Regions from separate parts of the Homo sapiens genome. Here region 1 is linked to region 2. Evidence: fine-mapped expression QTL. A gene starts in region 2. The other region holds a variant in brackets. All regions are shown on one strand. Distances are from middle to middle.

Region 1 (16,242 bases), 18 kb after region 2:
TAACTCCTGCCTCCCTGAAATGTTAAAACCAAACTGCGGCCGGGCGCGGTGACTCACGCCTGTAATCCCAGCACTTTGGGAGGCCGAGGCAGGTGGATCACCAGGTCAAGAGATCGAGACCATCCTGGCCAACACGGTGAAACCCTGTCTCTACTAAAAATACAAAAATTAGCCGGGCGTGGTGGCGGGCACCTGTAGTCCCAGCTACTCGGGAGACTGAGGCAGGAGAATCTCTTGAACCCGGGAGGCGGAGGTTGCAGTGAGCCGAGATCGCGCCACTGCACTCCAGCCTGGTGACACAGCGAGACTCCATCTCAAAAAATTAAAAAAAAACTGCAACCCGACCTCAGGTCCTTTCTCAGGACTCCTTGGAGCCTGTCTCCCAGGCTGTGGTTGCCCCTGTTGGCTCAGAAATAACCTCTTTAAAATATTCTACGGAGTCTGGTTTTTCCATCAGCAAGTTTAACTCTAAAGTGGACATTGTTTTCCTTTCATAAAGGGCTGGGGCTTCCCAGATGATAATGAAAAAATTAAATTTAAATGTTATTTAAAATACATTTCTTCTTTCATTATGAAAGTAACAAATGGAAGAACATGTTTCCAAAGCCATCATGGTTTGTTAATTTTTAAAACCAATGAAGATAGGTTAAAAAAGTGAGCAAACATATTTTACATATATTTTTAACTTGAAAACTTATACATATTTACTCATTAATTTCTATAGTAAACTTATTGAGGTATAATTTTCATACAATTGAGAAAAGGAAAGAAATTGTGCTGAGGGATGATGCAAGTCCTTTTAAACGATCAGGCCCAGAGAGGCAGTCAAGTGAGGCGGCAGTGACTTCCCACTCCCCGCCTTGGAGCTGTGTATTCGTCTCTTGAAACGCTGGCTGTTGCCTCAGGTTAACCTCCTAGTGCAGCAGCAGACACTGCAACTCACACCCTACGGCTTAACAATATAGAGCCAAGCAATAGATTATGTTACTTTAACATAAATCCTTGGTCAACAACTTGGAACAGCCTCTTCTTTCCCTTGAAAAACCCACCTGTAACAGCTGCTAATAGGAGGTGTATTCAGGGCAACTTGAATCTACGCTTCCGGGCAGCAGTCCTCAAGCTTCGCCCAAACTCCCTCCTTACATGAATTTTGCCTCAGGTCTTGCCTTTGAGTCCAATTCAATGTGATGTTCAGTTTTCAGTCATACAAGTTGACAAGTTGTGACCAATGTAAGCCATGCATCCACCGTCCTGGTCAAGATGCATGAGGCTTCTGTGACTCCAGAGAGGCCCTCCCACCCCTTCCTAGCCAACGCCCCAGTCTTGGACCTCCAACCCTCCCTCTGGTCGTCATCACCATCTGGCCACTTCTCCATTCATGAATATTCCCACCCCTTCCTAGCCAACGCCCCAGTCCCAGGCCTCCAACCCTCCCTCTGGTCGTCATCACCATCTGGCCACTTCTGGCTCCATTCATGAATCTAGATATTTCCATATAGGGACAAGCTTGTATTTAGCATTGGTCTGCTGATTGAAGTTCTTCTTCTTCTTTAGTGTAAACCCCAGGCTTAACTCTCCTTCCTAGCCACCCAATTTCATATTTTTTAAAGTGGACCAAGAAGTTGGGCACATTTTAAGACAATCTAAGACCAGAATTTCTCCAAACGTTCACCAATTAGTTTTCATTTTTAAGAGTCATCTTGTCTATACCTAATTCAAAAGCAATTTTTAAAGCAGCCTCAAGTTACCTTGACCTTGTTTTCCCAAATCACTTATCTAGGTTTATGTAGAAACAACTTTCTGTCATTTTGCACTGATATGTAATAGGTTACATAATGTTGAATTAAGTTTCATGGTGTTACTGGAACAGGGTCTCAATCCAGACCCCAAGAAGGGGATCTTAAACCTCGTGCAAGAAAGAATTCGGGGCTAGTCCATAAAGTGAAAGCAAGTTTGTTAAGAAAGTAAAGGAATGAAAGAATGGCTACTCTGTAGGAAAAGCAGTGATGTCCGCTGCTCAACTGAATATACTTATGGTTATTTCTTGATGATATGCTAAACAAGGGGTGGATCATTCAAGATTTTGCTGGGAAAGGGGTGGGCAATTCCTGTAACTGAGGGTTCCTCCCCTTTTTAGACCACATGGGGTAGCTTCCTGACATTGCCATGGCATCTGTAAACTGTCATGCACTGGTGGGAGTGTCTCTTAGCATGCTAGTGCATTATAATTAGTGTATAGCGAGGAGTGAGGGTGACCAGAGGTCACTTTCGTTGCCGTCTTGGTTTCAGCCAGCTTCGTTACCATATTCTGTTTTATCAGCAGGGTCTTTGTGACTTGTACCTTGTGCGGACCTCCTACTCATCCTGTGACTAAGAACACTGAACTTCCTGGGGTTACAGCCCACAGGTCTCAGCCTCATTTCATCCAGCCCCTATTCAAGATGGAGTCGCTCTGGTTCAAATGCCTCTGACACTAGTAAGGATCACAGGTGGCATCAACAGGTTTGGAGCAAACCTGAGTGTCTCCCGGTTGGTCACATCTCAACTGACGAAATCCACGACCAGCAGAGAGCAGCCTCCTTGCCCCCTGTGCTCACTGAGTCATCCAGCCCATTTTGACCAAGATTATGTGAGTTGCTGGAGCAGAGGTTGGTTGAGGGAGCTCCCACTGTATGTAATCACCGTGTCTTGCACAAAATAAATAGAAAACACAAGAATACACTCTTATGCATGATCCTACAGCCCAGAGGCATCCACTTCCTACATTTTGCATATCGTTTTCCAGTGTCTAACAAATACTTTAATGTACTTACAGTCAACATCATTGCAGGGCTAGAGGGAACCATAATCTACAAAACTGTCCTCAATTCTTCACCAGTTACAAGGGTAGGGGTCTCCAAGACCACCCTCAGTTTTGATAATTCGCTAGAAAAACTCACTGAAAGCTGATATACTCATGGTCATGACTTAGCACAAGGGTAGGACACAGATGACTATCAACCCAGGGAAAGGCGCTCAGGCCGGAGTCCAGGAAGTTCCCACCTGCAGAGGGTCCTTCCCCACAGAGCTGTGGGCAGTGTCACTTGGGGCATCCAGGTGGGATCCCCCGAGCTTAGTGTCCCAGAGCCTTTGCTGGGGCCCCATGGTTGACTGCCCATGCGGATGGAGGTCTCCAGCTCACTCGAGGGTGAGCTCATCGCAACCCCTACCTGAATCACACTTTAGGCCTCCTGGTGTGGTCCAAAGGCCCAGGCAAACCAAGACCGTCCCATGTGGCTTAGAGACCACCTCTCAGAAGCTGGGGGAAGAGGCCAGGTCTCTCTGGGCAAGGTTCAATTCTTTATTACACCGTCATATATAAAGGATTTATTTTTCTTTCCAAAAGTTGGATTGCACTACACGCTTTGCTTTGCAATCTGCTCTCAGGCTCGTGGCATGACCGTGTGCCACACGCCGCTTTGTTCACTGAGGCGGACTCAGAATTCCTGTCATCGTCCTCTGCTGCTCACCTGGCCGTCCTCGGCACCTGGGTGGGAATGGAATTTGAACACTGGCGTGATTGTGGGTTGGTATCTCAGTCTGGGGTTCTAGAAGCAAACCCAAGACGAGGATTTGTGTGGAAGCAGTATAAATAAATGATGTGTTCCCTGGAAGACCCCTTTGTGGGAATGGGGGGTGGTACTGGGTGGGGAGGAGGCCGCACGCTGTGGGGGTCACTCCGGCTCCATCTCATGGAGGAACTGGGAGGCTGCTTGTCACTGCTCACAGGTGTGCCCTTTGGTTTGGGGGGTGCTCAGGTGCTCTATGTCTTATCTGTCATTCACTGTCTGAGGGTTATAAATTCCCAGACAGCGTAGCCCTCCAGGAGCTCAGCGAACCCCAGGGAAGAGGTTCCTGTGGCCAGAGGGCAGCCCCTGCAAGATTCAGAAGCCGGATGCTGGGACTGAGAGACCTGGGGCTCGGGGGCCTGCAAGATTCAGAAGCCGGATGCTGGGACTGAGAGACCTGGGGCTCGGGGGCATAAAAATGGTCAGTGGATACAGAGAAATGTGGGCAGAGTCCTCACGGCATCTGCTACGAATAAAGTCTGAAGGCGCCACAGCACTCAGAAGGGCCGGGTGTGATTCTCTCCTGGGTAAGTGTGTGCTCTCGGTGGGGTCAGCTGACGGAGACTGGGACAGAAGCTTAGTGGCCGCTCACCACTGTTTCGTCCCAGCCGCGTTCACCTGGGTGTCAGCTCCAGCAACCTGGGCAAGGATGGGGGAAGAGCATTCTGTCCCGTGGGTGCCGCATATGCTCAGGCCATCAGCTCTACCCCAGTGGGTGCAGGCTCCCTCCTCTGCACTGAGCACCTCGCCCCGTCGTCCTGAGCCCTCCATCGTCTCCACTTTGGGCAAAGGCCAGGGGCTGCTTGGCAGGGTCTTGAGCAATGGAAAGGGACCAGCAGGCTGATCGCTTTCCCTCCTCCCTACCTTAGAACAACTCAAGGTGCAGGGGCCCCGACGGCCTCCCTGAGACACCCTCATGAGCCATCATCGGCTGTTTTCTTTGTGATCTGTGGTAGCTCAAAATAAATACATAAATAAATAACACATAAACAGAGCATCACTCTGAATTTGTCCCGTTTCTTCCCTATCTCCGTGCCTAACCCCACTCCTGCTTCCCTGGGCTTGCGGACCACCCCCCACCCCCACCCCCACCCTCACCCCCACCCCTAACCCCCGACCCCCACCCTCACCCCCACCCCTAACCCCCGACCCCCACCCTCACCCCCACCCCTAACCCCCGACCCCCACCCGTTGTGCAGATCTGGCTTCTGGACTTCCTTCTGCTGTCCAGCCCACCACTGCCCAGCTCCTCAAGAAAAAGGGCTCCAGGTCTGAATCCTTCCCTCGGGGGCGGGATGTGTGGCTGGACCTGAGGTCAGAAGCGCGGCTGAGGCTGCAGACGTGTGCACAGAGTAAATGTGTTGAAATACTTTACTGCACGTGTTCCCTTTATACTCTCTTTTCACACTGATTTCAGGCCTGCAGTCTTTGTGCATCTTTGCTTACAGGATTTTGCCGTATTGTAAATCAGAATGACCCTGAAGTTTAAGCTAAGCCAGACTCTTATGGAAGAAAAAGCTAGGTGTCAGAGGTGGTGGGGGTGGGGGATGCGGGGAGAGGGCTTTTGGGAAGCGCTGGTCTAAAAATCTTTCCAGACACAACCATTTCTTACCTCCACCATCACCACTCTGATGGAGCCACTGTCACCTGTGACTTCTGTACCTGTTTTGTATGGCTGCCATGCCCCTCCCACCCACCTCCAGTCTACAGACAGAAAGGCACGTGGATAGATAGACAGAAGGATAGATAGATAGACAGAGACACATAGATAGATGATAGATAGATAGATAGATAGATAGATAGATAGATAGATAGATATGATAGATGATAGAGACAGATAGATGATAGATAGATGGATGATAGATGATAGAGGATAGGTGATAGATGATAGATAGATAGATGATAGATAGCGACAGATAGATAGATGATAGAGACAGATAGAGACAGATAGATGATAGATAGATAGAGACAGATAGATAGATGATAGATAGATAGATGATAGATGATAGAGACAGAGACAGATAGATGATAGATGATAGGTAGATAGGTTAGATAGATAGATAGGTGATAGATGATAGGTAGATAGGTAGATAGATAGATGATAGATGATAGATGATAGATAGATGATAGATGGATAGATAGACAGAAAGATGATGATATAGCTCTCCTTCTCCCGCTTTCTGTTCTGAGGTAGCAGGCCACACTCAGGAATGCTGGAATGTGGGTGTTTGGTGAAAGTGCTCTGTGAATGAACAATATACATGAGCTGTATCTATATCCAGTCTAGTCTCAACACAGCAGCCAGAGGTTTCTTCCAAAAATACATGTCAGCTCAGACCCCTCTCAGCTCCCGTCTCTCCAGCAGGTCCCCATCCAGCTAGGTCAGGAAAAGCCACCTTCACGATGGCTATGGAGGCCCCCAAGGATGTCCCGCACTCACCCCCAGAAGCTTGAGTGTGATGAGAGGCCGCCCTGAGGCACATTGTTCTCTGGACAGTTGGCCTTAAACGAGGGAGGTTATCCTGGTTTCTGGGGGAGCCCTGACAGCAGAGAGCGTCCTCTGGATGCAGGCGGAAGAGGGTGGCAGAGAGGACTCGGCGTGAGGAGGACTCAGGGTGCCCTTGCTGGCTTTGAGAAGGCGGATGCAGCCAGCCTTGAGCTGACAGCCCACAGGGGAGTGGGGCCTCTGTCCCTCAGCCACAGGGAGAAGTCCTCTAGCCCCCAGTGAGCCTGAAGCATGTTCTTTCCTCGAGCCCCAGACAAGAGCACGGCCCACTGGCACCTTGACTTTGGCCTATGAGAGCAGAGTACCCCGCTGAGCCAACCCTCTCCGACTGTGATAATACATGGGTGTTGTTCAAGCTGCCACATTGTCCGGGGGCTGTAAGAAATGAATACTGTGGTCTGCAAGTCCCCCTGACAGTCTCCCACCCTCCTCCCTGGTCCCTCAGACACCCTTGTTCCTCCCGTCAGAACCACAGGCCTCATACTCCCTCTGCCAGAGGCCCTTCCCCAAAACAGAGGAGCGAGTGGAGCAGACAGCTGCCGGCTGGGTGTGTTCCAAGCCTCGGCGGATGCTTCAGAATAGAAGCGCCCACGCCGCTTTGCAAAGTGTAAGTGACCGCGTGGCTCACAAACAAGCCTGTTTTCTGTGAGTCCTGGCCCTTCCTGGAAATGGTGGGGAGGGTGGCTTGGTGAGCTGCCCACATGGTGTGTGCAGGAGGTGAGCTGATCACTGGGCCACAGGTGGCTGACGGGGGGCAGCCATTGAGTGGGACAGGAGTAGGTGACCAGCAACTGCAATAGTCAGGAGTGTTTGGCGAGGGCCTTCCTTTGGCTGAGAAAGGAGGCAGATGCTGAGTGTTCAGCAGTTTGGGAGCAAGGAGAGTCCCTTCTCCTCCTCCCCTCCCCTCCCTTTCCCTCCTGGGCCATGCAGTAGGACTGTGAACAGCATAGGAAATGCACACAGAGGAGCTCAGGACGCCCAGGAGGACCTCGAGGAGTACCCAAGCAGAGGAAGCTTGCACCCTGAGTCTGCAGTCGGCTGGGGTGGGGCCCCTGCACTGGAAGGAAGGCTGGGCCCCCGACCCAGTGGTGGCTTCAGGGCCTGGTGAGGGTCACTTTCAGGCTGCTTAGACCTGCAGCCTCCCCAGGTGGTGTGCTCAGGCAGTGCCTCTGGGCCGGCACAAACGGGAAGGTGCTGAGGCCGCGTCTACCTGTGGCTTTAAACACTGGCTTCCACCTGCTGGCCTCCGCGTCCCTCCAGCCGGCCGCCTGGAGCTCATTTTGTGAAGCTGGTTGTGTGTGAATTAGGTGATTCCCACTGTGAACAGTGGAACTCTTGCACATTCCTTGTGTAATTTTGTCCTTAGCATTGTGTTCACCTCGTGCGCCAGCTGCAGACCCTCTCAGGACCGCCCCAGAAATGCTGGCAGCTGGTGAGTGAGCATCTTCAGGCAGCTGTGAGCTGTGTGAGATGATTTTACCAATGCCAGCCTCATATCCACGCTCTGAGCATGTCTGAGGTGAGAGGGCTCAGCTATGATGCCCGGAAGATGAGGTGCATTAAATGCATTTTGACCTGGGGTATTTTTTTTCTATTATTATACTTTTAAGTTCTAGGGTACATGTGCACAACGTGCAGGTTTGTTACATATGTATACATGTGCCATGTTGGTGTGCTGCACCCGTTAACTCATCATTTACATTAGGTATATCTCCTAATGCTATCCCTCCCCTCTCCCCACCCCACAACAGGCCCTGGTGTATGATGTTCCCCTTCCTGTGTCCAAGTGTTCTCATTGTTCAGTTCCCACCTATGAGTGAGAACATGCGGTGTTTGGTTTTCTGTCCTTGCGATAGTTTGCTCAGAATGATGGTTTCCAGCTTCATCCATGTCCCTGGGGTATATTAAACTTACGATGGGTTGTCAGGATGTGGCCCCACCAGTCCAGGAGCATCTGGGCTACGATTATTTATTTTGTTCCTAGAATTTCTCCAGCTTGGGCATTGGGAGCTCTTGCAGACCCCGTCGACATTCACTCCCTGAAGCCTCCAAAGCCACCGCCCTTCCCTGACATCTTGTGCAAGGCAGGAGGTGTGCGGCCAGTTTCCACAAGGAACAGGGTCTCCTCCAGGCTGTTGGTCCCTGGAGAAGTAACTTTTGCAACTTTTGTAACTTTTCTGTAAGCCTAAAATTATCTCAAAATACACAGTTAAAAAATGAGTCAAGTGATGTCACCCTGGAATCTGCAGACGAACACTAATGATAGCAGCAACAATAATAACAATGGCCTTTGTTGAGTGTGGCAGGCAGTGTGCTGGCACCTCCTGTGCGTTTTCTCATCAAATCCTCCTTAGGAACCCAGGGTCTTCCCATCAGCATCCTGACCTTGTGCATGAGGCAGCGGAGCCTGGGAGTGCGGCGGGGCAGCCGGGGAAGCGGAGGCGTTCCAGGGACGCCCATCTCCGCCGCTGGCTGGCAGCCTTCGCTCTGTTAGCTCAATGTTTGCCTTAATGCACCCTTTAGAATCGCACTCCATCCTTGGAGCCTTCAGCAGCTGATAAAAAAAGAACCCTTCTGTGTACACATTGGCAACTCTACCACCCTATTCCCAGTGGAGCTCCGGGAGCTGAAAATAACCGCGTGCTTTCTGTTTCGTGCAGAAAAGAGGACGTGTGCACTTTATTTCATAACACTTGCCATTTTTGAAACTCTGATTTTTCCCACATGTATTTTTTAAATGTCCTTGGAGGAAAAGACACACTGCGGATTTTGCCAGCTTCCTCTTTTTTTGTAATCCAGCCCAGGTCTATGGGCAGGTCCAGATCTTCAGGGAAGAACTCCTGGCCACCAGATGTGAAGAACGACGGGAAAGAAAGCCTTGAGCCAACACAGATGGCCATGGGGTGGACTTGCCAAGAAGTGCCAGGAGACAGCTCCCTGGGGGTCCGAGGCCGAGGGCCATAGGAGGAATGCCATCCTCAAGGGCCCCTGTCCCTTGCAACCCAGGCCAGGGAGGAGCAGTGGCCTGCCAGGGTCTCTGCATGGCCTGTTTCCTGTGCAAGGAAAGACCACTGGCTAAGACAATCCAGGGCTCTGTGTCCTGAGACAGGAGCAAGGGTGGTCGTCCAGGGCTCTGTGTCCTGAGACAGGAGCAAGGGTGGTCGTCCAGGGCTCTGTGTCCTGAGACAGGAGCAAGGGTGGTCGTCCAGGGCTCTGTGTCCTGAGACAGGAGCAAGGGTGGTCGTCCATGGCTCTGTGTCCTGAGACAGGAGCAAGGGTGGTCGTCCATGGCTCTGTGTCCTGAGACAGGAGCAAGGGTGGTCGTCCAGGGCTCTGTGTCCTGAGACAGGAGCAAGGGTGGTCGTCCAGGGCTCTGTGTCCTGAGACAGGAGCAAGGGTGGTCGTCCAGGGCTCTGCCTTCCCTGAGCTTTCAGCACTGTCCTCACCCCGGCCAAGCACGGCCAACGGAGGGAGGTGTTTGTGTCAGGCTTCCATCTGCATGATGCTCACTTGCTCCCTTTTAACTGAGTTGAGCCCCACGGAGATGCATTTTGGGGAATTTCCAGTGAGCACAGAGCAGGTGGGTCATGGGAGGGTCAGGGCTGAGCACGGCATCAGAGGACGACCCTGCCCTCCGAGGAACACCCTCCTCCGAGGCCACCGGCAGGTTTTCCGGGTCAGCTCTCTCCCGAGGCTGCCAGGCTGTGCCCTTTCCCATCTTGCTGCACTCACCCTGGACCAAGGATCCCAGATGCTTGGCTGTGAGTGAAATTCCTAGGATTCAGGGCCAGGCTAGAAGGGCAGTGGGAGTGGTGTCTGTGGCTGGAAAAGACCCATGCCTGCCTCCCACAAGGCCACACAGCCAGGAGGTTAGGCAGAGAGGTGGGACGTGCCCTTCGACCCCAGTGAATCTGCGCAGTGCTGGAAATACAGCTTGGACTGCACAAACGTACACAGTTGGTCAGCCCTAGTCCTCCCAAATGGGACTGAGAGGAGACCCTCCCAACACCTGCTGTTACATCGAGGGGAGCCTCTTGCCTTGTGCAGTCACTAGGACTAGGCTGGTCTCATCTCCTTCAGTGATGCACCCAGCGGGTCGCACTGCAATACGACAGGAAGAGGAAATACACGGTAAAAACAATGACAACATAAATGCATAAAGTGAACACATTTCCTCTACAAAGTCAGTAACAAATTAGAAAATGTAATACGGACAAACTTAGTTCTGTTCTCAATACTAACAACCCACACATGAACTTAGCCGGGAACTGTATTAAGAACAGTATTAAAGCAGAGGCTTCATGTGGGGAAAGGTCCCAGGCTTGCTGAGGTTAAGACAATTTACCTGTGT[A/G]GAGACATGTCATCACCCTGGAGACAAAGGCTGATGAGCAAATAGACTAATCCTCCCCTGACTTAAGAACTTATAAAGTCGAAACAAAATTATATTTGGCCCTCTTAAAACATGCTAATGGGATTCAAAAGCTTATCTGGAAAGCAACTGAGCTTGAAGAAGCACGAGCCATTTTAAGAGAAGAATATTAGGAGGGGCATTCCCTGTCAGAAATTAAACCACAGTGTGAAGCTATGATCACTGAAAACATGTGGCACAACTGCAATCATCAATTATATCAGGGAAAACATAAATTACTCTTGAAAGAATTGGAATTTATGAAATAATTGTATGTGTTTGCAGCAGGGGTTAATGGTATCACATATCTCTAGAGAAAGATGTGTTCAACCAGTGATCTGTGATAAAAATAAAATATGTACAATAAATTAGATCTTCTCATATCATCTTAAAATATGACAAACTCCGGAGGTGCCCAGAAAACAACTCCAATGAATGGTCTCCCCCAGCCCCAGATGAAGGCAGTGCCCTTGGGTGGCCCCAGGGAAGAGCTCTCTGCCCAGGGCCACTCTGTGTGGGTCGTGTGAGGGACTCTGGGTCTGGAGCTGTGTCACCAACTACCCTTTGGACCGGCCACTTTCTAAAGGATCAACATCCACAGATTCAGCAGGGCTGGGTGAGGAGACCCAGTCGCCCACCCAGACGGACGACCTGCAGCGGCACACACCCAGGTGCCCACTCCTCTTGGGGGGAGTCCCCATCACTGGATCTTGTCAGCCCTGTGCCACAGAGAGGCTGTGCTGCTATTGTGCGTTTTGGCAGCAGAGGGTGGACACGTCCAGGGAGGGTGGATTAGCTGAGGAGCAGAGCTGGGGCCGGTGTCTCGGCAGTTCACCCACTCCCAGTCTAGAGCAAGAACAGGGTGGACCCTGCGATCCTCGAAACGAGAGTGTTTCCCTTCCTCAGACACATGAGCCAGGCAGTGGAGTTGGGATGTGTCCCTGGATGGTGGCAGGTTAGAGGGGTCCCCAGGCTCCCACAGGAGCCCAGGCTCGGGGAGGAACCCTCTGCCCCTGGCAGAATGGGCACCTGCGTCTTTTATAGTGGGAGCTGGGCCCAGGGAGGGACACACTTCCTTGTCAGATCTAAGACCCAGTTTCTGGGGGGACAAGGGTCTCCAGGCACCCAGGGAAGCTCTCCCAGGCAGAGCCCGGCCCAGAGCTTGCACTCAGGGGTACAGAAGGGATACAGGTAAGGACGTAACTGGATGGAAATTTGTGACTTCAATGCAAAAATTAGAATGTCAGAAAACCTAATAATTAGTAAGCTAAGCATTTGCTGTGAATCAGATAATAACTAGGAAAATTAATATAATGCACAATGAATGGAATGACTACAGGTAGAAGATTGAGAATAGCAGGTGGTGGCAGAGATGTGGATCAACCAAAACTGCTTCTGTTGGTCAGAGTGGATGTGAACTGTGAGGCTGTAGAATGATTTGGGAAAATTGTCTCTTCATATCTGTTAAAGCTAAATGTACGCCTAGCCTATGACTCAACAATTCTGCTCCTAGGTATATACCCAAGAAAAATCCACAAACAAGTTCACCAAAAGGCATGTGCAATACGCAGAGTGACACTATTCATGACAGTCTCCAAACTGGAAACAACCCACATGTCCACCAATGGATAAACCGTGGTCTGGTCACACCATCAAATACAACAATGGGAGTAAATGAGAAGAATGAATGAATCTCACAAACACAATGTTGAGTGAAAGAAATCAGACGCCAAAGAATGCACACCAAGTGATTCCATTAAAAACAGATCATGGAGGCCGGGCGTGGCGGCTCACGCCTGTAATCCCAGCACTTTGGGAGGCCGAGACGGGCGGATCACGAGGTCAGGAGATCAAGACCATCCTGGCTAACACAGTGAAACCCCATCTCTACTAAAAATACAAAAAAATCAGCCGGGCACAGTGGCGGGCGCCTGTAGTCCCAGCTACTCGGGAGGCTGAGGCAGGAGAATGGCGTGAATCTGGGAGGCGGAGCTTGCAGTGAGCCGAGATCGCGCCACTGCACTCCAGCCTGGGCGACAGAGCCAGATTCTGTCTCAAAAAAAAAAAAAAAAAAAAAAAAGATGTTATAATGTCATAATGCCAAAGCTCTGATCTCAGAGGTTATGGTGCCAGAAGCCATGATGCCTCAAGACCTGATGTCAGAAGTCATGATGTCAGAAGTTACGATGTCGTGATGTCAGAAGTTATGATGTAGGAAGTTACAATGTCGTTATGTAGGAAGTTATGATGTCGTGATGTAGGAAGTTACGATGTCATGAGGTCAAGAGCCATGATGCCAGAGCCCTGATGTCAGAATTCATGATGTCATGTTCTCAGAAGTGGGGACAGTGGTTATTCTTTGGGGAATGTTGATGAGAAGAGGCACTTGAGGGACTTCCAGGGGCCTGTAGCTTTTTATTTCTTGATCTGAGTATGGCTTACACCAGTGTTTTCAGTTTATGAAGCTCTACATTTATAATATCTGTGTTTTATAATCCCTGGGTATGCCACACACTTTAATTTAAAAGTATGTTTAGAGAAAAGGGTTGCAGTCCTGGCCCTGCGTGAGGCTCCTCATGTGATCTTTGACAGCCCCCTTCTCCCTCTGGGCCTCAGTTTTCACATCTGCAAAGTGACGATCTGCGTGCAGCTGAAGGAGCACGGAGACTTTACGTCTCGTCCTGATGTCCAGGAGGGTGGAGGCCCTCTTTCCACCGTGTCTCTTTAAGAGGGGTTACCAATGCACTCTGCCAGGAGCCTGGAGGGGAGCAGGGTCTCTTCGAAGCCCACCCCTGGGACAGTGGCCCACACATGCAGGATGCAGACCTCGGTGGATGCCAGCACAGGGTGGAGGGGCCAGGGAGGCAGAGTCAGAGAGGCCACGGGGCCCACCGCCAGCATTAATATTAAAGGCGGTTCTGCACAAATGATCGCATCAGGCCTGGAAAACAGAGCAGCCAGCTTACATGGGAATGTTCTCACCACAGTCAGCCGTGCAGAACTCTCGTCTAATCAGTACTATTGAAACCTTTAATTTCCCTTATTTTGTGCAAGGCGAGAACTGGATATCAGAGGGATTTCTCCCAGAATCACATCCGCTCTTGCCAGTGTCTCCCCTGGGAGGCCTGATGGCCCCGGTGTGTGAGTGGGAACAGCAGCCCTATCCTCAGCGTTTATTTCCCCTGTGGCCAGTGAGAAAGGATCACCAGCAAGCCCGAGCCCAACCGTCTGCAGGCTGACCTTGACTTTGACCTTGGACCTCAAGGGGCAGGCATGGGAAGCTCATATTCCAGGCGTGGGGCTAAGAGCAGAGGCCTGCTGAGCCCCAGAGCTGAGGCCCCTGTCTTTACTGGACCAGCCCGCACTGCCCAGAGGCTCTCTTGGTGCCAACAGTGAGAAGCTGGGTGCCAAAGGCTGCACCATTGCTGCCCTGGGAAAAAGCAGCTCATTTAGCTGAAGGACACCCTGGCCCCTCTTTTCCCACGCTGCTGAGCCCACTCTCTTGCAAGCTGCCTCCTCCGGGCATCACCAGTGATCCCCATCTCCTGAGGCCTCCTCCCAGCCTCGGGGGGGCGGCTGCCCCAAGTCATATTATAAACTAGCATAAAGCCCGTGTAGGACCCGGGAAGCAGGTCCCTGAGCCAGGAGTCCCCATCCCTGCACAGCATGGCCCTGCTGAACCCCAGCTAGCAGGGGCTGTTCCCGCCTGCGCCTGCCCCTTCCCACCGGAGGACACACCTGACAGTGGGAGCTGAGCTGCGGTTTCCTGGCGCCCGCCAGGTGGGGCTCTTCCTGCGTGTGCACCTGTCCTCAGGCCACCAAGGAGTTACCGTCACTGTGTCCATTTCACAGAGGAGGAGACTGAGGCTCAGAGATGGGAAAAGGATCAGGCCAGGAGGTGGGGGAGAAGGATCCTGTGACTTGAGGCCCGGCACTAGAGTCTGCCTGAAATCATCAGCTGTAAGATTTCGCCTCTCATGACAGTAATAATGATAATAATAGTAACTCATTGAAAATAACTTTATGGTCCTTTTCCATGTATAGAAATACAGATGCTCAATGAAAAAAAAAAAATCCAGTCTTCCCAACTCTGCAATGTGCGTTTTCTAGTCTAAAATCTAAGTCTCCATTTATTGCTTCTAAAATGCTCCTCAGGAGAGTTTTGCCGTTTCCTTCAACAACTCTACCTTTCTCACTGAATTCCCCACCATCAGGATTTTATGTGTCTTTCTGCTATTGTGAATGAGATTTTCCCCCTTTATTTTCCTGTTTTCTAAGTGGATATCGGTGACTATTGACTAGTGTTCATTTTGTTATGCTAAGTGCTCCTGTTTCTTACAGCCTTGCAGTTGATCCTCTGTGTTTTCCAGATCAATCTCAAACCATCTGCAAAATATGGGAATTTTGCCTCTTTCCCATCTTTGTAGCTCTTATTTCATGATTTTTTGGTCTTCTGGGGAAAGGAACAGGCTCAGGTAAACAGCCAGGCTGGGGCACCCTCAGGGCAGCTGCGGATCACCCTATGCCGTCCCTCCACCCCGGTACCCACCCCTCCGGGAGTGAAGGCTGCCAGCCGAGATGCACGGTTGCTGGGAAGTGTATGGATGAGGCCCACCCAGGTCTGAGGCATCTCACCCTCCAAGGAGCGGATACTGCCTGCCCCCAGCAGGGGAATGCTGGCTGCTGCCATGGTGGCTGTGGGTGTGTGGTGACCGTCCAGGCCTCCCTGGGTGCTGCTGGGATGGGTGGGCCTGGTTTAGGGTTGATTTCTGGGGTTCCGGGGTCCCCCAGGGGCAGAAGTGTGATGGCACATGGTTCCGTCATGGCTGGCTGCTCTGTGGCTCACGCTGTCTGCCTTTCCTGCCCTGGTGAAGTGGTTGTTTTGTGATGTATTATTTCATTGAATTATATTGGTAGATTTCCTAATACTGAACTTGTTTTAAAGTGCTTGGAAACCTCAACTGAAGCCGAGAGGTGGTCGTTACACGTGTGAGTCTTTAATCTGCCACATGAAGTAATGTGTGAGGACGTTATTACCATAGCTGGTATGTTTCATTTCATGTGTATGTGCAACTTTTCAATGTTTTGGTGCAAATATTATGCTGGAATCCTAAGAAGAACACAGGGTTTTCTTTCTTTATGCTCATGAATAGGAAATTTTAATCATATTGTAAAGATTGGTGCACCAGCATTTTGAATTAGTGAATTTGTGATTTATCTGGGCGTAGAATTTCGGAGGTGAGTGGGCTGGGTTTTAATAGATTTCTCAATTTCTTCTGCGGTTAATAATAGTCTGCTTACTTTTCTGTTTCCTTTTGGTTAGTTGGGGCAATTCATATTTGCCTGGGATAATCACCCATATTATTTAGAATTTAAAGTATTTGCATGGAATCTGTAAATTATGCACTTGTGTGTGCTTCTGTCGTAACTGTTTCCCATGTCGTTAGACTCGTGTGCACGTGTGTGTCCATGCCGTCCTCACAGTTCCTGAATTAGGGTAGACACAGGCTTATTCACTGGTGAATTTCAAAGGCCCACCACACGAGCACGCTTTTGAGTCTCCTGCTTCAAATCACACACTTTTACCATCTTATTTTCTTCTTCTTGGTTCTTACATTTATCCTGTTCTTTTTATTTTCTTGAGTCTAATTTTGTCAGTTGAATGAATAATTTACTTGTTTGTATTTGGTTGTTGCTAACGTAATTGTTATCGCTGTGAA
Region 2 (16,242 bases):
AAATCTGTGTTCTCCAGCCCAGACAACCCCGCATGTCCCATGAAGAAAAGTGCCCCACTGAGGTGCGGGCTGGAAGCCTTTTCAACACTATTCAGCTCCTGCTGAGAAACCTCTCAGGTCCCGCAGAGCGCAATGCAGAGCGGAGCAGGTCCAGGACCAGGGCAGGGCAGAGGGTACAGATGGAGCAGGGCCGCCCAGGATGACGGCTGCAGGTGGAGTTCTGGAAAATTATCAGGATGATGACAGACCAGGGCCGGCGGTCATGGCTGAGGACCAGCCCCCAGACACTGCTGAGGAGAAAGAAACTGTGAAGTCGACCTTATTTTACTCTCAGTCACTAACGTTTCTGGGCCGTTAAAGGCGGATGGCACAGAAACAGGCTGAGTCCCTCCAACCCCACGGAACCTGTCCTGACAGGAGAGACCCCCAAAAGGAGCCAGGACGTCCTCGGCGGACACAGGGGCCAGCGTCCCCATGCCCCTGAAGGTGGAAGCCTGGGGCCTACCAACTGGTCCTGAGGTCCGGGTGAGAGGAGGGCCTGTGGCGCGGGGGCTGGGCAGTCACCCTCACACCTGAGGCAGCAGCTCTGGACAGGGACAAGCCCTAGAAACTCCAGCCTCCAGTGAGCGGGAGCCACTGCTTGAGGGGGCTTGGGAAGAGGGATCCTCTCCTCACTGGCTACGGCGGGAAGAGGGCTTAGTCTTCGTGTGCTCAGCTGTGAGAAGCCTAGAAGTGCTTTGCTGTCGTTTCCTCACTTAATAAAGACAGCAAATCAGCCTCACACTGCAGCCTCCTGGATTCTTCCCATTTCTCATTTCCTCACTTAATAAAGACAGCAAATCAGCCTCACACTGCAGCCTCCTGGATTCTTTCCATTTCAACAACCTTATTAACTGGTTAATTCCCAGGTTAAGCCAAGTAACCCGGCAGGTGACTGGGAAAGCTGAAGGTTCCATGCCTGCTCCAATTAATGTCTTCTTAGGACAGACTGGAGAGTTCAGATTCACTCTCTAAAATGACTCAGAGAAAGAAAATTCACTGACTTATGAAAAGGTCAGTCTCCATCACTGACAGCTTCATATCACAAAGAAAGGCATTTTCAGAGCAGAGACACTTGATCACTGGGAATTACTGACTCCCAAGCCCAGAAAATGCCACTGGATACCCGGCAAAAGACCTCCATTAGAGCAGAGGGAATCAGACGGCACTGGTGGGATTAGCAGTTCCAATGGCTCCCAGAGCTCAGAGCTCCCAGCCAGGGCAGCCACACGTGAGGGACTTCTCACCAAATGCAAGTGAGCTTTGAGCTAATGCTTCAGAAACAAACTGGTTTTACAAGCAGGCTTTAGGTTAATGGTACACTTTTTTAAATGAAATAAAAAATGAAACTACTTTTTATTGGCTTATATAAGGGATCTGGAGTCATCAGCCTCTTGCATTGGTTTTATGCATGCAAACATAAAATGGCATTGTTATCTCAGGGTCAAGCTTATATTGGTAATTCTGGGTCAATCCCTCTGGCTTTTCTATAAGTATTTGAAAATACTGATATGATCCTTACAGGACTTCTCAAATCTCCTGGGGGCAGCATCCTTGGCCAGGATGTGCTCAGGGAAGACCACAGGTGCATCTGTCCAATAAATCAATGACTTCCCCCAATTAGCATAAGAGTTAAATATAATCAAACTATGCAAACTAGGTGTACCATGAGGTAAGTAAACCTCCTTAGAAACCAACTGAACACGCTGATCAATATCTGAAATTGTGGTATCTGTATAATTGCAGTAATACTGCGATAATCAATATCTGCATAATTGCAATACAAAAACTACAAGAATTTGATGTAATAAATGAAGATTTTACCTAGTAGGTTAACAAAAAAGAGCATGTGCTGGTAATTTATGTGCTGGTAAACATTTCACAGCTGGATCTCAGGAACAAAAATGCATGCATGCATATACATGGATAAGTGTATTATAAATTTCAGTGAAATAAAGCATCTGCAGTGTACAGTTTACAAATATAGTATACAGTACTCATTTTTGTAAATTGTATATGACCAATTGATTCTCGCAGAAAACATCGGCTCATTTCTGGAAAACTCGTTTCTGCAGGGAGACTGTAGCTGTATTTGACCAGGGAGGGTAGGCCCGACACAGATGCTAGTGAATGTTCTTATTTGCATTAATGAGTAAGACAAAACCAAAACGACAAAGCAGTCAGTGTGATCTCGTTTGTCAGTGACTTCTCTGCTGAACTGAGTAATTGTTTTTAAATGCCAGAAGAGTTCTTCAATTTTTTTGCTGTTCACAGTGCAATGGCTTCAACACTTTTAAGTCTAATCTGCATTATTAACACCTTCTCCATCAGTCTGAGTTAAAGGCCAGCTCTGGTTTGTAGCACTTGCTGGCGTCTGCAGCGTCAATGCATCCACCGTGAGCCACTCCAAGCTTCCACCTCGGCAGGGCTGAACAGGAGCACGCGGCGTGGGACGCCTAAGACAGGAGACGTCTCCTGCGGACCGTCCAGGCTGCTCTCGGGGAGGCTGGCCTGTGGACTTCATCCATGGGCTTCCATGGCCTCTGGCTTCCAGTCCTGTTTTGCCATTGGCGACCCCTGGCAGGGACTGGCAGGAGGCAGGAGGATGAGGTCTAGGTCTTATTCTCCTATGGGGTCATCTTAGTCTCTGTCTGGCCCTCGGTGAAGGTCATGGCATCTTTCAAGGTGACTCTGTGCAACCTGACTTCCAGAATCCATTAACTGCTCCTCCCCTCCTGCCTTCAGACCAGGGTGAGAATAGCTCTGCTATTATTAGGTCCAGAACACTGCACTTTTTTGGTAGTTTTCCAGCCCTCTGCCTATGTCTCTGCAAACAGTCCCCTTACCAAGCCCTCTGGGGATGACGCTAGTGTGCCCTGCGTTCCCGCTGGGACATTGACACAGACAGAACCCATACAACAGCAGAACTCCCCAGAGGACAGCCTCACCACGTGCACAGTGAACGGCCTGTGTGGGTGCTCCAAGACGACAGCCTCACAGCGTGCACAGTGAACGGCCTGTGTGGGTGCTCCAAGACATCAGAGGGGTCCCAGAGTTCTCCAGAAAAAATAACTATTCCACGTAGCTGCTAGCGTGAGACGCTGGGCCAACCCGAGCATGTGGGGAAGGCACCTTATGCTCTGCCATCACCCACAATGTGATGGTCTTGGGGGTGGGGCTTTCCGAGGTGAGTAAGTCATGAGGACCCGTTGTCGTGGAAGGCTTGAGTGCCCTTATAAACGAGGCCTGAGCTGGAAGGCGCTGTGAGGAACAGGCCCTCCCCAGATGGCAACTTGGTCTTGGACTTCCCAGTCCCCATAAATGTGAGAGATGATTGTCTGTTATTTTAAGCTTCCCAGTCAGTTACAGCAGCCAAACTTCTATCAAAAATAATAAAAGAACAGCAATTAGAAGTTTAAGAAATAAAAGGTCTTAGTTTAAATATAAAGAAACTTAAATGTGGCAGGAATTTAAAGAAATAATGGAGGACAAGGAGAAAGCGCATCTGACCTTAAGGCTGGGAACGATTCCTTTGAGTGACTCAGGGGTTGTGGTCCTGGGCCTCAGGGAGGGACATATTCGCCCAGCAGACGGCTCAGCCCTGGTGCACACCCTTCATACAGATGTGCACCAGGGGAAATTCAGTTACGGTTAAAGGGCTAAATGCATACTTCATCAGCTCATCAGCTATAAAAGCAATCCTCTAATAGGATCCGGGAGATGAAAGAGGGAGTGGGGAGGGAAGGGTGGGGCTGGAACCTCCTGGCATTACAGGGTAGGGACCACCGGACACTGTCAGAAATGACGCGACAAGAAATAGCCTTGAGTACTTTCAATTAAAGCAACAAAGGCAACCACAGACAAGCCAGGCCTACTCCCACCACTGCCACTGCTGGCCGCGAGGGAGGAGGCCAGCAGAGCCCAAGTCCCTGGCGCGTCAGTGCCGCTGTGCTGCTGGTCCCCGCTCACCTCTGCCTCGTTTTCGGGCTCTCTGTGTGTCCTGACACCTGTGCCTCTCACTTGGTGGTCTTTCCTCCGTCCCTTCTTGTTTGCCCGGCCCCTCTTACAGTGTAGCACTCTAAAGCAGCTTTTCTTTATGGAAATCTGTTTATTCCAAAGCTCTGAGGCAGTGTTATAAATATTGGTTTAAAACATTAGCCAGGGGATTACTGATAAAATATAAAATAGAAACAATTTCCCAAGGAAACTTCATCTAAAAATACACCAGTTTCCCCTCTCACCTCACTTGAGTAGAGGCACCAGAGGGTGTGTCAGGACCTGTCTCGGGGTGAAGGTCTCACTTCCTCACGCCTCTCCCACATGGCTCCCAGGAATCCCCCAGGAATGGCTTGGAAAAAAAAAATCTGTGACAATGGAGAAGAGTTGCCCCCAAAGAAACGTGCATATAAACAGCTCTTCCAGCTAGAGAAAAAAAAATTCTGCATAAATAATTCAGATTGCTGAGCTTGGTCCCTCATGCCTGTAATCCCAGCACCTTGGGAGGCTGAGGCAGCAGTTTGAGACCAACCTGGACAACATAGCGAGAGCTGGTCTCTACAAAAAATACAAAAAATTTAGCCAGGCATGGTGGTGCCTGCCTGTGGTCCCAGCTACGCAGGAGGCTGAGCTGGGAGGATCACCTGAGCCTGGGAGGCTGAGTAAGCCAGGATCACACCACTGCACTCCAGTCTTGGCGATGGACTGAGACCCTGTCTCAATGATCAATAATAATAATAATTCAGACAAACCAGGTCGAAAAATGTCCTGAGACGGTGAACTCAGGACCCAGCTACCTGGGGTGGACACTGTGGCTGATGGACCGGAAAGGGTAACACCAAAGGGCTCTAGGAGGTGTCTCATGTCTGGCTGTTGTCACTCCCCTTGGCCGCTGAAAGCCTTTCTGTTCCCCAGAATCGAGTAAGGAGCTCCTGGACAGAAGTGGGGAAGGAGTCTTCCTGCTCAGGGCTATGTTACTTAACTCCGTTTAAGTGACAGAGCATGAACAGGTCATATTAGTGTCACATGCACCCGATTTCATTCTCCATTTGCAACAATGAAGACTGTATAACGACATTGTTAAATACCCCAGAATTATAATTAAATCTTATTAGCCAATAGAATCTGAGTGTGCTAAAATCTCTATTAGCCGGGACTGATGTAGCCACGATGGCCATGCTCGGCGCGGCGGCTCACACCCGTAATCCCAAAGCATTTCGGGAGGCTGAGGTGGGCGGATCACGACGTCAGGAGTTTGAGACTAGCCTGGCCAACATGATGAAACCCCGTCTCTACCAAAAATACAAAAATTAGCTGGGTGTGGTGGCACGCACCAGTAATCCCCGCTATTTGGGAGGCTGAGGCAGGAGAATTGTTTGAACCCAGGAGGCGGAGGTTGCAGTGAGCCGAGATCCTGCCATCGCACTCCAGCCTGGGGGACAAAGCCAGACTCCATCTTGGGTGGGGGTGGGGAGGAAGAGGAGAGAGACCAAGCAGCAATATCATCGATAACAAATTACAATCCAAATTCTAGGCGGTGTTCTGGGACTGGTTCACATCCAGCTTGGTCTGGCCTTGCCACTCCCACAGGGCAGGACACACTGAGGTCTGCCTGGGGGTGCCTGCTCTGGCGGCTGGGCTCCCCGCTTTCTGCAGGCTCAGGTGCCCCCTATTCCTGCAGCCCTTCCTGGACCCAGCCTGTCCTCATCTCAAACTCGGGGCTGCTGGCCTGAGCTTGATCCCTTCACCGTTTCTCACTAATACGTCACTCTCGCCTCTTAAAAGATGACAAAGACTCTCTCCTTTGACCACACTCGAGTCAGGCTCCTCTGAGCCCTCCCTGTGACCAGTCCCTGACCTTGGCCGGTTTCGGCCGATTTAGCAAGAATCCTGCTGAGTCGGTTTAGTGAAAATCGTCTACTCTTGGTCCCTGATCAAAGTCCTCAACTCCCACCCTCGGTCTGTGACCACACTGCCTGCCTTTTCAGCAAAAATCCTGTCTATGCAGCTAGAACCCGCCTTGCCCCTGACCCTTCCTCTTAGTAATTTTCTCTCCACTCCCGACCCTACGCCTGGGCTGTCAATTCCCACTTTTTCTATCTGGAGTTGAGCCGGATCTGCCTCCCCTAACCCAACATCTCGCTTTAGCAGCCCCCCCACCTTGAATAAAAGCAGCCTTGCCCTCTTTAACAATTAATAAGCACAGACTGGGACAGGACATCCCCCTCCATCCCAGCGCCCATGCACCCTCAGCCACGGTCCTCAGACCTCAAGAAACCCAGCGGGTGACAAGCTTGGGTGTCAGCGGGGCTGGGATTGCTGCTGGGGGCACAGGAGCTCGGGAGCACTTTGCAGGTGAGCAGGGCCTGGACAGGGGCTTCTCTGCAGCCCACCCCTGGGGAGGACTCCGGGCCCTCGCCCTGGACGGCAGAGCTCGTTTTGCTGTTGCCCTACTGTCTCCGCGACCTTGGGGGTTCACTTAGCACCCCCAGGCCAACACCTGGCCTCTCCATGCACCAACACCTGGCCTCTCCTTCCCTGGCCTGCCGCCCTGCCTGTGTCTGGACTGTGGTTCACCGAGTGTGCACGTGGGCCTCGGAGGCTGCCCTATAGAGCCCAAAGTCCCAGGGAGGAGCAAAGGGGACCAAGTGCACACTCACCCAGCTTCCTCTGCCCGGCAACGTCCCTGCCCCCATCTCCCCTCCACCGCCACCAGGGCCTGCATCCCCATCTGCAAAGGGGACAGGGTGCCCACGCCTTCTGAAGCACGCGCTCTCCAGGCCGCTCTCCGGGCGTCACCCCGCCCTGCTCCCCTCGCCCCTGCACAGCCCGAGTCCAGCCTGGTCGCTGCCATCAGGACGATCAGGACCGACCGCCACCATCAGTGGGGACCGGCCAGGGCGGTTAGGCCCGGTCCGGGGCCCCAGGTCCCGCGTCCCCGCCGAGGCCAGGCAGGGAGGCCTGGCTGCCCCGGGCTTTAGAACCAAAATAAGCCCCGAAATGATTGGCGGCGCCCATGCGCCAGGAGAAAACCTAAAGGACGAACGTTCCCGAGTACATATAAGGACGATTAATATTTATTGCACAACTTTTTTTTTTACTTCCTTGTTAAAGAGGAAAACCTTACGCTAAAAATAAAACGACTAGGAGCCCTTGTGCCTGCGTGGGTGGCGCTCGCGCCTTTAAACCTGAAGCCACAGGGGCTCAGCCCCCCACCCGCGCAGGGCGGCTCCTGCGCATGCGTAAACAGAAGGGGTCGGGGCGCGGCCCAAGACGACGCCAAGGGAGCGGACGGGCGGGGAGGAGGTGGCCTCTGCGCAGGCGCAGAGAGGAGCGAGCGACTCCTGCGCAAGCGCAGAGTGAAGGGCCGGGAACAGTGGAGGGTGCGAGGAAGACAATGGGGGAGGACCCTGAGGCGGCCTCTGTGAGCCGACAGGAACACGTGGTCGATCAGAGAGAGACTCGTAAGTGCACGGAGCTGATGAGGTGACTATGGCGTTGCGCAGGCGTCCTGTAGAGGCGGGTTGTCATCGGCGCAGGCGCGGTGTGGAGGAAGCCCCGGCGCCGGCGCAATGAGGAGGCGGCCGGACTCGGCGCTGGCGCAGTGTGGAGGAGGCTCCGGCGCAGGCGCAGACGCAGGGCGGGCAATGGCCGCCTGGGTCTCTCGGGCAGCCCTGCCCACCTCTCTCGCGTCTCCTGGTCTTGGCCTGCGGCTCTCTTTCTGGCAGGTGCCGCGGCGTCTCCTGCGGGCCTGACCGTGTTCTCCCGCCTAGCCAGGCTCTTCTGCGCTCCTTTTTTGTTGAGATTTTTCCATCCCCTGCACAGGAAGTGTCCTTTAATTACTCCAGTGTTTTTTTAGTTACTTTTTAAGAAACATTTTGGACTTTTCGATACAGAATAGTGTCAAAAAAAAAATTTAACCTTCTTCAGGTTATATTTTAGTGAATGATATTAATATATGTTCCAAAGTTGTATGGGATTTCTAAAATTCTAATTTTTCTGAGTATATGCTACCGATCATAATTATGGTTATGTTGTTGTTATAACCAAATTTCTTTGTCAATTGTGTCTTTTTGAGTATTTAAAGTCATTTCCGCAGTTAATTGCTTCATGCTGATGTAGTTTCTGAAAACTTCACAAGCACACAAAAATCCTAGAACATGGTGTCTTTTAGGAGGTTCGTGAACGGATGGGGAGGACCCTGAAAAGCACTGTGGAATACAGGTTTCTAGTAACTTCAAAATCACATCATTTGGACTGGGTAAGAATTGCTGAAACTTTAATGAAAAGACTGACTGGCTTATAAAACTGCTAACCCAAATAGAATAAAAATTAATTGAATACCGAGGAAATGCTTCACCAGGTTTGCATACTTAATCAGCCTATACTGAAATTGTTTAGATATACAATTTGAATGAACTCCATGGTCTAAGTCAAATTACCTGTGATAACCCATCAGTTATCCATGCTATGTGCCCAATTTGGAGAAACAACTGGCACCCAAGAGGACATAAGTCCGATGTTAAGCATGGACTCATGGAGAACCAAGATGGCTGCCTTGTCCTTCGTGAGTCCTTAAAGCTTTTGTTATTAAAAGTTATGCATTCCATGACTCATCCTGGAAAAGATAAAATGATCCAAATTAAATATGTTGGTGTGGTGACTTACAGATTGTTAAAATAGTTTATAAACAATGTTTAGTTTGTCAAACCCATACTCCTGGGAAGTCAATCAAAGCTTCATGTACATTTGGCTACCTGATGAGGCATTTAAACATTTATAAAGGGGTTTCATTCAGTTGTCATTTTCAATGTATGTGTTCTGGTTGTACTAAAGCTTTCCCATGCAGGAGGGCTAATGTTATAACAGTAGATTACTATGTATCAGTGTATTTTCACCAGGTAAAGAGCTTTTTATGGTTCACTGAGGACAATCAACCCCTTCACAATCTAGAACCCAAAGATGGGATCTTCTGAGAACATCAGAGAAACGCTGCCCTTGGCATCATCACTGCAACAAAACATCAGGATCTTGAACCTTGGGGTCATAATCTCACAACTGAGCAGGGTCACTCTTGGAACTCTACATCCATTGAAACCCTTAAGGTAAAGCTAATCAGGGAAGTTTCTCCCCAGAAGAAGATGGCATCCTTGATGTGAGCAGCTCTTTCTGAAGATCATGGATCAAGACTTCTTACTATCATGAGACTCTTATCTTTGAATGTTTTTCCGTTGCTTCCGCCTCTGTGAACAACAGAAGTGAGAAGGGGGTCTGTTTTGTGCACTTATGGGGTATACTTTTATTTGTGAAGGGCTTTGCAGCCAGCTTTATACATGGATAATCTTATAACTTGATAGATAAAGATGAAGGCCCAGTGTATCATAGGTGAGAAACTTCAATGGTACATATGGTGCCTCATAATCATTCAGAAGCAGAACATTGGTTCACTCCTCTTAACCCACAGCATGGGTTAAAGAGACCATTGCCAAGAGGCCTTCCCTCTTCTAGAAGGGCATCATTTGTTAGGTCCTTTTTCCATGGTTTGGAATTAAAAAGGCAATGACTAGAAACATATCCCTCATGGTAGACTCTGTAGCAGATTCTACTGTAAAGGCTACACAACAGATGTTAAATTCTCTTGTGAAAGTTATGCTAAAAAATAGAATTGGCTAAACAGGAAAGTACCTGTGCAGATGCTGGCACTTAAGGCCTATGGAGAAAACATCAGGTGTTATAGAGAGTCTGTTGTAGGGAATTAACGAAAAGACCACTGAGTTAAGTCAAAGAATGGTCTATTTGAGTTTAGGTGGTCTGGTTTATGGGGACCCTGGCTAAGGAGCATACTCCAAATTCTTGGTGTTAACCCTCTCAGTAGTCATAAGAATAGTCTCCCTGGTGCACTGTATTCTCTCAAAGGTTTTAAATGTTTGCATGAAGCCATCTTTAGAACGTCAGATGGTCTCTCTTCAACTGGAATGACAAGAGCTGAAAGAAATGTGTGACCACGAGGACACCGAAACCGATGAGTGACATGCTGAGACTGGAAATCCAAAATGATAGTAACGGAGAGTGGCGCTAACATCCTAAGTTTTGGTCACACTCTTGCCTAAGTGACAACCTGACAAAGGGGGAATTTTTTAAACAAAATGATGGGAGGCCATTGTTTTGGACTGAGCACTAGGTCCCAACAGACCAAACCGAACCAAAATGGCATCATTCGTGCTAAATGTGACATAATCGAATTAAGACTTTAAGGAAACACATGGGTCCTAGAATAGACCAGGTTTTGTTTTTCTCTTGCAAACAGGACTTTCCAGCATAAGGTGGTATCCTCAACTCAGTCCTTGTTCCTACCTTTGCAAAACTCACTGTTCTGCTTCCTAGTGGGTTTCAAGACCAATGGTGACAGTGACATCAATAACTCAAGTTTCGATCAATCTCTCAAAACTGATAAAATGACCAAAAAGGGGGAATTGTTAAAGCGAACTAAATATGGCCTGAGAAGGACTCCGTACTTCTGTATTGGAGTCCCTGTGAACAAACTGAGCCTAACTTAATAGGTAGACAAGATTGAAAACCTAAATTAGGAGTATGTACCTGTCACAATTGCTGAGTCTCGGCCAGTCCCAGCAGCCGTACTTCAATCACTCATACACTGCTGAATGTTCAAACTGTGTGTAAATAAGGCAAATGCCAACCTGTAACTAATCCAGGTGTTTCTCTACCTCACTTCCCTTTTTTTGTCTATAAATCTTCCACCACGTGGCTGCACTGGAGTCTCTCTGAATCTGCTGTAATTCTGGGGGCTGCCCGATGTGCAAATCATTCATTGCTCAATTAAACTCCTTTAAATTTAATTCAGCTGAAGTTTTCTTTTAACAAGAGTGAGATAAGAATCTGTGTTCTTATCCCCCAGAATGGACAAATCAGTAGCGTTCCTTGTCATTCTTTTGTGGCTGGTTTCACGTAAATATTTTGTGTGTATGATAATAGAATTTGATTTTAATGAATATACTTTAAAAGCAACTTTTTTTTTATTCTTCCTCACCATCGAAGATGGAGAAAAATAAGAAGGGCTGTCTTGCGGTTCCATTTCTTTTGTGGATAGTAAGAAGCGCTGTCTTCTGGTTCCGTTTTTTTTTTCTGGATAGTAAGGATGTTTATCTTACTCTGTCTTCATTGTCCTCAAACCTCAAGTAGTCACTAATACCCTGGCTATGACAGCTTTTATCGTAGTGTTAAATGGCAGATTTATTTACTTGGCAAACATTGTCAAGTCTCAGAAAAATTACCCCATGGTCTTGCCTTCTTCCCTCGTGAATTGCCTTCCACTGATGGAGAGGATTTGATCTGTTCCCTGCTCATCAATTTTTCTAGCTTCTTTGGGATGTCCGCTCTGCATATCTACTAAGGAATTAAGAAATAATGGCTTCAGCAAGAAACAAGGCAGGAAAGTGCAGTGACATGAGGACCATACAGGGAAGGAGCTGTCCCCAAAGGTGAGAATGGCCCTGGACAAGGGTTCTTGCTGTGACTTCACTCAGACCAGACCACCTTGACCTTTTCATCACCGTGCCTCAGCGAAGTCAGTCGTTGATTCTCTGATCGGTTACTGAGATCATCATGAAATCTCCCTCGTACGAGAGTTGCAGAACTCTGCAGTGTCAATCATAGTGTTTGGGAGAGAGGACTTTCTACCTCCATCCTTTTTCTGAACCTAAATGGAATGAAAATTAGAACTGTTGCTTATTCTTTGAGGTAATTTCAAATTCCCTTATCCAAACCAGTGTTACAAAAGGACTCCAGTTTGCCCCCCAAATCGGTCTATTAAGAATGTAATGATGAATTTTCATCCAAATCCCACAATATGAGCTTTTCTAAAATAACTCTAGAAACAAATATGACAATATTCCAAAATTCCTGCCCTCAGACCTTATTTTGTATTAGAGTTATCTGTGTATCCATTTTGTATCCCCTGAAGCACGATGAGCCACTTGAGGCCAGGTACAGCCATGGCGTGTATCCCAGAGCACCTGTGAGAATGTCTCACAGACAGTCCGTCTCTCCTGAATATGAAGGGATGGGCACCAGCCGGAGCCACCATCCGTGTGACTGGCCCGTGGCCGCCTCCAGCTCACACAGAACCTCTGCACGCAACGGAAAAAGGTCTCCCCTGGGTGAATGGGGTGGGAAACGTGTGCCCCTCCAGGCGGCTGGTGAGCAGAGTGCTCCCCTCGGCAGGGTGTGACTTGTACAGCTCCACCACGGGCCCTGTAACAAGACAGGCTTCGACCCTGCCCTCTTGCAGCTCGTATGTATGAGGGGCAGCCCAATAAATAAATAAGCAAATCCATGCTGTCATTTCAGGTATTAGCTAGAGCTTTGGAGGAAAAGCAGGCTGAGGGGAGGGAATGACGGGCAGGAGCAACGCAGGCAGCAGGCCAGGGAGGGGCCGAGTCGGGGCCTGGGTAACAGGCAGTGCCATGTATAAAACGTTAAAAAGTGTGAAAACCAGTTTTACATACTGGGTAGTTAATATTTCCATCTTCCCCCCATTTTGGTTTCAGTTCATTCTAGGTTTCTTTTCATTTCCTGTATTTCTTCGACACTATAGTTTTGTGCTGGGTCAGGCCAGCCCAGGGTGAGTCCCACTGATGGCTGCTTTGGGTGAAGATTGAAGCCTCCCCTCCAGGGGCTGCAGCGCCAGTCTCTGTGTGTGGCCTGGTCACAGCACTCAGGCGTCTCCGACCAGCAAGAGTGTCTCGGGGACACTGGTTCTCCCCTCAGGCCTCCGACTTGCAGGGCCTGCCTGGGGGTGGCCAAGGGGATGCTTGTGTGTCCACACACAGTGTGAACACAGCATCTGAGGGCGCCCCAGTTTCCTCTGCAGACTTCAGGAGAAGATTCTCTAAGCAAAGTTCACAAAGAAGCAATAGGACTGAGGCAGGGTAGGGGAAATAGGTTGATACCAAAATACAGGGAGAAGTGCCCTAATGTGTGCTGAGGGTGCTTTGGAAAGATTTCAGGTGACTCAGCCGGGGTCAGGCATCTTGTGAAGACAGGAGAACTGCGGGCCTTTCTGCAGCGTGGACAGCAGGTTCCCTCTCCTGGGCGTTCCCTTGCCTTCGGATTTGGGGGGTTTCCCCTGGCAGGGCTGGGACCCCCTGCAGACAACGGGGACCTTCCAAAGTCTGGGAAAAGAAACCAGACCAGGTACTGGGACGCAGGTCACCAGGAGCCGGCAGCGTGGGGCCCAATAGTGAGGCCCTTCCTGGGCCTGTGGCCTCCTCAGTACTGTGAGGCTGCCAGGCTGAGAGTTTCTTTCCAATCTGAAGTCCTCCACTAGACAACTGAGGAGAACCTGCATCTGTGCGGGTCTCCTGGTCTCCTTGGGTGTGATGAGGGCAGAGACCCCCCTACAGGCCACAGAGGAGTCCACTAAGGCTCACCCAGGCCTGCTGCTCCAAGGACCCACCCAGTCCCTAGGATTTGTGCTTGAAGCCGCCACTGCCCTCACGTGCGTCCTGCCCACGCTATGCTCACACGTGTCACACGCCTGGCCTTCCACGCACGAGTGCTCCCACATGCTGAGAATTAGCCTGTTCTGTGAAGGGCCACCCGTTCTCGTCCGTCCTCCTGCGGTCGGACACTTGATGTAATCAGGGTTTGGAGACGTTATCAATAAGGCTGATAGACATTCTTTTACAGACACGATTTTTATTTCTCTTGGGTAAACACCCGGGAGTGTGGTCGCTGGGCAGTCGGGAGAGTGGCTGTTCCGTTTTGCACTCCCAGCAGTAGGGAACGAGAGTTCTAGTCACTGTGCGTCCTTCCCAACGTGCAGTTGCCAGCCTGTCTCTTTCTAAAGGCATATTGCTAGTGGGTATGAAATATACCGAATTTCTTTTTATTTTAAGCTCAATTCCTTTACGTGTTTTCTTCCTAGTCCCCAGAGTGGCTTCTGTCCCCGAACATAGGTATGAATGGTGCTGAGCACTGGACCACAGGGTGAGCTCCGGTGGGAGGGTTTTGGCAGGCCATGGAGATGAGTACTTGAATTAGGCCCAGATTGCAGAGTCAGGAATTGCTGGGTACAGCCTGTCTGCATTTTGTTTTGGCTTCAAACTTTACAACATTCATTTTAAGTTCTGAGGCCTTAGGTCCTAAGAAAATGTATTATCTGGAACAAATGCAATTGCCAAAGTCTACAATGACTTTGCTTTGTGCCAGACCTCCTGGAATATGCCCATTCCTGGTTCACAGATGTCTGTCAGGCCTGCCCAGGGACCAGGTCCCATGCTGTGGACTCTGACCCCATGCACGGAGCAGTGGAGGCTGCCTGCTCGGCCTGGCTGGCGTCTGCCCCAGAACCGTATCAGACGCCTGCTGTACATGCAAACACAGCGCCCTTGGCTCTTGGCAGGCCAGTCTCCGCTAATCACAGACAAACCTCTAGTCCAGATTGAGGAACATGTGGTACCACTCTCATCTTCCACACCCAGCACAGACCTCAGTGACTGATTGCGGCTGGTGCTGCTGTGAGCATGGACGCAAGCTCTGCTTCCAACAGCAAACTTCAGAAACCCACTTCCAACAGGGAAGGCTCGCCCCCGACAGGAACACAACCTCAGAAACCCACTTCCAATGGGGAAGGCTCACCCCCAACAGGAAGACAACCTCAGAAACCCACGTCCAATGGGGAAGGCTCATCCCCGACAGGAACACAATCTCAGAAACACACTTCCAATGGGGAAGGCTCGCCCCCGACAGGAACACAACCTCAGAAACCCACTTCCAACGGGGAAGGCTCACCCCCGACAGGAAGACAACCTCAGAAACCCATATGTCCAATAGGGAAGGCTCATCCCCGACAGGAACACAACCTCGGAAACCCACCTCCAACGGGGAAGGCTCACCCCCGACAGGAACACAACCTCAGAAACCCACTTCCAACATGGAAGGCTCACCCCCAACGGGAACACAACTTCAGAAACCCACTTCCAACATGGAAGGCTCACCCCCGACAGGAACACAACCTCAGAAACCCACTTCCAACATGGAAGGCTCACCCCCAACGGGAACACAACTTCAGAAACCCACTTCCAACATGGAAGGCTGACCCCCAATGGGAACACAACCTCAGAAACCCACGTCCAACAGGGAAGGCTCGCCCCCGACAGGAACACATTTCTATCTCCAGGCTGATGAATACTGAGACAAAATGCAGCACAGTCCTCCACACGTCCCTTTTGCTTTGGAGGTGGTGGAGTGACGCCCTTGATAACCAGCCTGTGCTGCCTGAGTGGCCCTTTGAGTTCGGGTCACAGTGTCAGGCACCAGCTCCTTCCACTCAGCTGTGCAGACTTGCAGTGGGTGCGTCTGTGACAAGCATTCTGCCCACCACCTGAAATTGATCAAGTCTTTCCTGCATATTCCAAGTCTTTTCTCTGTTGATGGAAAAACCAAACTCTGTAAAATATTTTAAAGAGGTTTCTTCTGAGCCAGTGAGTGACACAGCCAGACAGACACGGTCCCAGCGAGTCCTGAGAACGTGTGCCTGAGGAGATCGGATTGCAGTTTGGTTTTGACATCTCAGGGAGGCAGGAGTTATAGGCAAAGACATACAGCCATGCATGGCAGGTCCACACTGGCTCGGCCTTTGGAGGTGGGACACCTTGAAGGGGGCTTACAGGATATAGATGGATCCAGAGATTCTTTGAGTTCCTGTTGGTGAGAGGAGCAAGGCTCTGTCTAAAACTTGGAACGTTTAAGTTAAGATCCTGCTACAGGATCTGTAGCCTACAGGTGCAGCCTCAGGTCCTGCTCAGCCTGCAGGTGGGACCCACCCCTGCCTTGTGCGGCCTCGGGTCCTGTTATAATTCGGTATCCTATTGCCACCAAGAGTCTGCTTTGTCAGTCTTAAGATCTCCGTTTTAACATTACTGCTGGTCAGTTGTGTCTAAACTCCCAAAGGGAGGGAGTATGACGAGGCATGTCTGACCCCCTTCCTGTCAGGGCCTGGAACTCAGCTTTTCAGGTTTCTCTGGGTCCCCTTGACCGAGAAGGGTCATTCAGTCAGTGGAGGGGGGGATTCAGGGTTATGCTTTTAGTTCACACCTCCAAAACAGGAGGCTACCTTTTAAAATGAAGTAATCACCAGTGACGTGAAAATCAGAGTTGACTTGAGAACCAGATGATGGGTGCTTC

The links. PIP is the estimated chance that this variant, and not a neighbour inherited with it, causes the effect.
Region 1: its variant is fine-mapped to the expression of LINC03015 in cerebellar hemisphere (GTEx, PIP above 0.99).

What each region holds. Positions count from the first base shown.
Region 1 is chr7:122,350-138,591 of GRCh38, reverse strand. No RefSeq gene overlaps it. Among named protein-coding and RNA genes, the nearest start is that of LINC03015, 19 kb to the left of the region's middle. RefSeq lists enhancers at 3,773-4,275, 4,276-4,778. The variant A/G (reference allele first, on the strand shown) is at 10,466.
Region 2 is chr7:140,586-156,827 of GRCh38, reverse strand. LINC03015 (long intergenic non-protein coding RNA 3015) reads left to right here and starts at 7,390. Exons shown (of 3, transcript NR_134325.1): 1 at 7,390-7,499; 2 at 8,210-8,296; 3 at 12,017-12,384. It overlaps LINC03014 (long intergenic non-protein coding RNA 3014), which reads right to left and starts at 7,110. Exons shown (of 2, transcript NR_108065.1): 1 at 6,696-7,110; 2 at 1,363-3,419. RefSeq lists an enhancer at 7,365-7,659.